Linked DNA regions of Homo sapiens. The protein of the gene in region 1 interacts with the protein of each later gene in a pairwise test. Each region holds a gene or a part of one and is shown on either strand. Other genes may lie near its edges.

Region 1 (3,749 bases):
TCAGACAAAAGGAAGGCTGCTGTTGGACGGACGTGGGAGGCCTGTGTGCAGCCCTGGCCCCTGGAAAAGGATGTGCACCTCTGCAGGAGGGCCGCTCCCCAGCCACACCTGGGGTACACAGCACATGAGCGCAGCCTCCTAGGAGTGCTAGTCCTAGGACAGGAAATCCTAGTTTGCTCCGGTGATGGTCAGAGGGGTGTTGGCACACAGCAGCCTGGGGCCATGGTGAGATGCTCCTCCTGACCTGGGATTCGCTCTTCTGCTTCTGTGCTGTCACCATGTTCTTGATTTTGAGCGGCCTTATTTCACATGTATCCTAAAGATGGTTGGGTGCAGGGAGACACTGTGTGCCTTGTCCACACAGCCCGCCTGGGCAGGAGGACGACAGCATCCCCAGCGTAGCACGAGGGTGGCCCCCTTCTCAGAGCGGCCATTTCCTCCCCTCCCCCTCAGATGGCAACAGTCTGTTTGACTCCATGGCCAGCGGGATGCGCCTGGTCGTCAGCTGCATCTCCTCCTTCCTCATCCTGTCACTGCTGCTCTTCATGGTCCACCGGCTGCGCCAGCGGCGCCGGGAGCGCATCGAGTCCCTGATTGGAGCAAACTGTAAGTGCCCTCTGAGGGCCACAACCCTGGTCCCCATCCCCACCCCAGGTCACCCCATGTCTCCATGAGCTCCCCAGCCCTGGACAGAGAGGGGCAGAGGCAGGTTTGAAGGCCACATGTTGTGGGGTCTGTGTCCTCACCTGTGGGCCAGGAAAGTTCTTGCCAAGACCCTCCTTATTCCCATTGAGCCACAGGGTGGGCAGAACTCGGAGGCCTCTGAGGGTCAGAGGCCCGGATCACCCTTCCAGCTGGAGGGGTGTGGTCAGCCAGAGGCTGGGTCTGACAGAAGTGTCAGCCCAGAGGGACAGGTTGGTGTGGTGAGGGTGAGACATGCCACGGAGCACACCAGGGGTCTCATGGGGATGCCGAATGTGGCCGAGGGGTAGGCAGCGGGGCACAGGTGTGTGCACTCAGGGACGGCAGGCCCAGCCTGGGGGTGGGGGGCTCAGGAGCCAGGCAGCCTGCCCCCAGTGACTTGTCTCTGTTCCCGTTGCACACTTTTGATGGCCCAGTGCACCACTTCAACCTCGGCCGCAGGATCCCTGGCTTTGATTACGGCCCAGACGGGTTTGGCACGGGCCTCACGCCGCTGCATCTTTCTGACGACGGAGAGGGTGGGACTTTCCATTTCCACGACCCTCCACCTCCCTACACGGCATACAAGTACCCGGACATCGGCCAGCCCGACGACCCTCCGCCGCCCTACGAGGCCTCCATCCACCCGGACAGTGTGTTCTATGACCCTGCAGGTGCCTGACTCCCCAGGGAGAGGGAACACCTTGTCAAGTAACCTGGCACGTGGGGCTGAGCCCAGCACTCTTGCCCAGCTGCAGAGGCCTAGGGACCTCACTTCTTTCCGGCTTTGTCTTTGGTTTTTCCTTTAAGGCTTCTCCTGGGGCTGCCCGTGCAGAAGGGGTCCTGATCTCCCTGCCTGGCCGCCCTTGGCAATCTGTGCAGAGAGCTCTGAGAAGGCCTGGGACCCCTCCCTCCTACCTCCCTGCCTTCTGTGAGCACCTGTCATCTGGGCAGCCCTCAGGGCCCTCAGCCCAGCTCTAGAGACCTGGGGAGCCCGACAGTGGTGGTTGTGAAGACAGGGCTGGCCCAGACCCAGGAGCCAATCACTTGTCTGTAGACACATGAGCTAGAGACACCATGGTGACAGCCCCTCCTGTCGTGTCAGGAGGCAGCTCTGTGAGGTGGGAGGAAAGCGTGGCTTCTGTGCTACTGGCCCATAGTTGGAGCCTACCACCCATCTGAGAGTGGGCGCCATTCCTCAAGGCTGTGTAGCTAAGGAGTGGCAGGCCCCTGACCCCTGGCCTGTCTCTGTCTCTGTTGAGCAGTGCAGGTGTCCCATCCCATCTCCCTGTGCATTAGGCCCCCTAACACACACAAACCTGTAGTATATTTGGTAGGCAGTGCCACCCCAAAGTGGCTGGCTCCTTGCATGCCTGCCCATCTCGGCAGAATGGGCATTGTGAGGCTGGGGCTGCTGTGCCTAAAGGTCTCAGTCCTGTTCGTTTGTTTAGTCAGCTGCCACAGCTCTTGCATGATCTGGGGGTGCAGAAAAGACTTGCATTTGACCCCTGCCCTCATGACACAGATTGTCACAGTCTTCCAGGGTAGGACCAGCTTCCTGCAAGGGATGGTGGTGGGTGGCAGCAGATCCCAGACACCTGTGTGGGCCAGGCTGCAGAGCAGGGTGGGGGCTGTGAGGGGCTGGCCGGGAGGGAGGTGCATCACCGGGGCCTTGTGCTGTTAGCTTTCAGAGACAGCCTATGGTAATGACAAGCAGGCAGCCCAGGCGCAGTGGCTCACACCTGTAATCCAGCACTCTGGGAGGCTGAGGCGGGAGGAGGGGTCTCACTATGTTGCCCAGGTTGGTTCGAGACCAGCCTGTGAGACCTCCTTCTCCACAAAAAATTCAGAACTAGCCGTGCATAGTGGGCACAGCTGTAGTCCCAGTTACTGGGCAGGCTGAGAATGGAGGATCACCTGAGCCCAGAATTCAAGGCTGTCATGAGCCATGGTCACGTCACTGCACACCAGTGTGCAATCTTTTAAGATCCTGTCTCTTAAAAGAAAAAAAAAGCAAGTAATAAAGATCGGGCAAAACAAAGCGAGTCGACTGCCTACCACACAGCCTGCCTTGGATCAGAGCTTCCTGCAAACACCTGTGTGGTTTTCCAGGCCGCTCACTGCAGCCCTGTTGCCCACACTCCGGTTGCCACATTCCAGCTGCAGCCCTGAATGTTCTTCCACCCACCTGGGCCCAGTGCCTCCCTGATGACAAATGCCCCTGCCTTCTTGCTGAGCCGGGTCTTCACCTTACTGAGTCTGAGACGGTTTCCCTTTGGGCCCCTCTGTTCTAGTGACTGCTGGTCAGTGTGTCTCCCCTACCTCACACCGATGGTGGGACAGGCCCGTGTCTGCCTTTGTGAGATGGGCCCTGCACCTTGCATATACCAGGTTCCCAGCCACAGGGGGCAGTAGGTACAACAGGTGTCATGTGGGGCAGGCTCCTCCTTCAAAATCTGAGGCCCGGGGGAGCCACCCAGGTCCTGCTCACCACCCAGCTTCAGGGGGGCCTTCAGGCAGGAGGAGTGTCTCCTGGTTTTGCCTAGCTCCCCTGCATCCCCTGTGCCAGGCCCGTACCTGCCTCTGACACCCCTCTGTCTCTTCCTGCAGACGATGATGCTTTTGAGCCTGTGGAGGTCAGCCTGCCAGCCCCTGGGGATGGTGGGAGTGAAGGTGCATTACTCCGGCGCCTGGAGCAGCCTCTGCCCACTGCGGGGGCCTCTCTGGCAGACCTGGAAGACTCTGCCGACAGCAGCAGCGCCCTGCTCGTGCCCCCTGACCCTGCCCAGAGCGGGAGCACCCCAGCTGCAGAGGCACTGCCAGGGGGTGGCCGCCACAGCCGCAGCTCCCTCAATACTGTGGTGTAGACGGCCTGGCCTGTACCCCAACGGTCTGGGAGCACCTGTCTGTTGTAGAAAACACCGGTCCCTGGGGAGACTTGAAAGGCCCCTGTCCCAGCCTGGACGCCACGCACTGCCGCACGTCACTGGCGGGCTCGCGTGTGTACATAGAGACCACAGCCCGCCTTCTGCCAAAAGAAGTGATGGCCTGCACCGAGCTTCCTTGAG
Region 2 (3,749 bases), on another chromosome or scaffold:
CAAAGGTACTTTTTATATACCCTCATTTATGTATGAGATAATTATGCTTTTATATACTTATGATTAAATTTTAAGCAGCATACTGTAAACATGGGTAAAATTAGTTAAATTTTATATCTGTAATTAAATGTATCGGAGATGGAAATTCTTTTTCGTAACTGATGTATAGGCACCGTCCCATTTAATGAATGATTAAATTCATTAAAACAACGAAAAGTCAGTCATAAGTGTTCTGATTTTAGGAAAAGGTATAGTGATGAAGTTATAGTTCTGAGGAACAGGGAACCTTGTCTTTTAGAAATCATGTTAAGAGGCACAGTGATAGGCAATTTCACCTTAGGAGATTCTAGTTAGCTCTTGATTCTGGGCTAGACACTGCTGCCAGCTGTGTAACCTTAGGTAAATCACTTAGCCTTTCTGGGTCCCAGCGTCTGGGGCAAGTGTTAACTAAAGCCTTCCCTGGTACTAATTTTGTAGAGCTCTTCCAACTAACTGTGTTCTTTGGTTAGAAAAACATCTTCATTGTGTTGAGACTGCTATGACAGAGACACTTTTGTTGTGACATATCTCACTTGGTTTTTAAGTAAGATCAGAGGTAAGCAAACGCTACCTGGCAAGCTGCCAGAACTGAGGTGCTGGTTCCTCTCTTTCTCAATTTGTTTGATTCTCTCTGGCTAGTAGGAGCTCCATGGGCAGTGACTGAAGCATTTTGTTTGTTTTTTAAATGTATTTTCCTTGACAAATAATAATAATATATTTTTTAAGTTTTCATTTTTTTTTTTTTAATTTAGAGACAGGGTTTTGCTCTGTTGCCCAGGCTGGAGTGCAGTGGCTATTCATAGGCGCCATCATAGTGCACTATAGCCTGTAGCCTCAAGCTCCTGGTTGATCGCCTCAAGCAATACTCCCACCTCAGCCTCCTGAGTAACTGGGATTACTGACATGCACCTTCTCACCCAGCTGTATATATTTATGGTGTACAGTGTGATATTTTGATGTACGTTTACAGTTGGAGTGATTAATCAGGCTATTAACAAATTACACCTCATATAATTACCATTTTTGTGGTGTAAAAAACATTTAAAATCCATTCTAGCACTTTTGAAGTATACAATGCATTGTTATTTATTGTATCTCCATTCTGTGGATATCACCTCCCATCTGTTAGAATGGCTGTATAAAAACAATGAAAGGTAACAAGTATTGGTGAGAGTGCAGAGAAAAGGGAACGCTGTGCACATGTTAGTGGGAATGTAAATTAATACAGCTGTTATGTAAAACAGCATGGAGGACCTTCAATGAACTAAAAATAGAATTACCATATGATCCAACAATTCCACTGCTTGGTATATATTCACAGGAATTGAAATCAGTATGCTGAAGAAATATCTGCTATCCCATGTTCATTGAAGCAGTTCTCAAAATGTCTGAGATATGAAAGCAACCTAAGTGTCCATCATCAGATGAATGGGTAAAGAGAATGTAGTATCTATACACAATGGAATATTATATAGTCTTGAAAAAGGGGAAAATCCTGTCATTTTCAGTAATGTGGAGGGTATTATAGTAAATGAAGTAAGTGTAAGTCTGGCACAGAAAGATAAGTACTGCATGATCTTGCTTACATGTGCAATCTAAAGAAGTTTACTTCATAAATATAGAGATTAAAGTGATGGTTGCCAGAGTCTGGGGGAAGAGGGTGGTTGGGGAAAGTGGAGATGATGATCAAAGTGTACAAAGTTTTGGTGAGACAGGGGGAACATGCTTTAGTGATCTATCGCACAGAATGGTGACTAAAGCATTCTTGATCGCATACTCACCAATTTCCTCAGATTACCTCTACCTCCTGCATGTCCTCATCTGTTAGCACACCCCCCCATTCCTCCCCCCTCCCCACCCCGCCTTAAAGTGGTGGGAATTATTCATGGAGAAAGCTAAGACCTTTGCAGATTGTTTTTGCGTTCATTTGTCCAACAGGCTTTTATGCACAGATTCACAGATGAGTCATGGCATCTTCCTGAGCTGAAGGCTGCACCCCTCAAACCTAGCCAGATGTTTTACATGTGTGAGCTTAGTTAAGCTTGACAGGAGAACACGGGCTGGATTGATCGGTGCAGAAAATCCATGAACCTTATAAGAAACAAAACTCAGAACAAGCTGATCTGAAGTCACAGTGTCATTTAAAAAATAAATTGTGTGGTGCGAGTATCACTCAGTCATCACATAAATTCCTGTATTCTATTTTTCTTGAAGGAGTTTTTGAACTCATCTGGGTAGGAATCATGTTCCTTTTTAAAGCCCCTTCTATGTTGGTGGAAGAAGATGCACCTTCTCGTATTCATACAGGATAGTTAGGTGTCTTTCTCCTTAGAAAGATGCTTTAATCATAGCGTATGTGTGTGATAGAGCGTAATAAGGATGTGTTTCCTTTACTCTTAGTTTTTTGTAGTTTCTTAGCTAACAGTTTCTTAAAGTGTTTTCTATTAGTGGTCCTATGATGTATCTACATAGCATGTAAAGCTAAATAATAATGTTCTGCTTGGAATTGTTTGTGACATTTAGAGCCTGACACAGGATTCTAAACTTTAAGTGGGAATAGAAGAGAAATGATTTATACCTCCCAGTAAAATACCACCGAAGGGCCATACAGACAGTGGGATAGCAGCTTATGTTCTTGATCTGGCCTCCTATGGGAATGGTCTATAAAAATGTTCCCCTCTTTTGGTCATTCCCCTAAGTGACAGTTCTTCACAAGGCCCCTGAAGCCACATAGAGATGCTGCTCTTCCTCTATGATCTTGTTTTTTTTTGTTTTTTTTTTTTTATTTTAGAGGCTGTTATGGTAGCTAGTACGAGGGAGATTATACAAATTTCAAGAAATTTAGGATTTCCTATCTCTAGCTCTATTCTTTTCCAAAAGGAGACAACATTTTCTGAGTTATGTTTGATACAATATGTCTATGTTTCTATCACAGTGACTTCATGCTGTGAATATATACATCAGAGGAACATTAAACTCTAATGAAACCCTTCTAAAAGGCTGTAACCGTAACACAGTAATACAATGTTTTACTTAAAAAGTGAAATTATTTTATCTGAGTCTACCCTTTGAAGTTGAATGGTAATTTCTATTTAAGAGATGAGAAAACAGTTTCATAGAGTTTAAGTGACTTACTCTAGATTAGTAGCTTTTAATCTTGTTTGACTATTACCCATAAGAAATATAGTTAATTTCCTGACCTAGTATATATATAAATATCCCCCAGTACCACCCCACACACATATAATTAAAACAGCACTTGCTTATACTCTATGTAATGTTCTATTCTTTTTTGTTAAAAAAAATACTTGTCACTAAATTGACTTGTTAATGGGTCCTGACCCACAGTTTGAAAAACACTGCTTTAAATGCTACATTTGTGATACCAGAAGGACTGCAACTCACATCTTACTGGGTTTCTGTGAAGTTCCTTTCATGACATTGGCAAGGAGTTGATGGTGGTGGTGGTTATTGTCTTTGATAGTCAGATATGTGGGTTTATTTTAACAAAGAATTTAATTATCCTTTTTTCCTTCAGTCTAAGTCAAAGTCTGTCTTCTGTAGTATTTCTTATTAAAGATGGAACAAATATTTAAAGCCATCACATGCATTGCGTAAGTTTTCTCTTTTAGTACTTGTATGTCTTCCTACCAGGACCTTTTTGACAAGGATTACATAATGACCAATATTAGACTCTTCTGTATCATGTC

Evidence for each region.
Region 2: the proteins of DGCR2 (region 1) and DOCK4 interact in binary tests that used the Homo sapiens proteins (3 or more experiments, as listed by UniProt).

The regions. Positions count from the first base shown.
Region 1 is NC_000022.11:19,038,664-19,042,412, reverse strand, and holds part of DGCR2 (integral membrane protein DGCR2/IDD isoform 1 precursor), read left to right. Parts: intron 1-453; coding exon 454-606; intron 607-1,118; coding exon 1,119-1,355; intron 1,356-3,291; coding exon 3,292-3,548; 3' UTR 3,549-3,749. UniProt on the Homo sapiens protein: Putative adhesion receptor, that could be involved in cell-cell or cell-matrix interactions required for normal cell differentiation and migration.
Region 2 is NC_000007.14:112,199,800-112,203,548, reverse strand, and holds part of DOCK4 (dedicator of cytokinesis protein 4), read left to right. Parts: intron 1-3,749. UniProt on the Homo sapiens protein: Functions as a guanine nucleotide exchange factor (GEF) that promotes the exchange of GDP to GTP, converting inactive GDP-bound small GTPases into their active GTP-bound form. Involved in regulation of adherens junction between cells.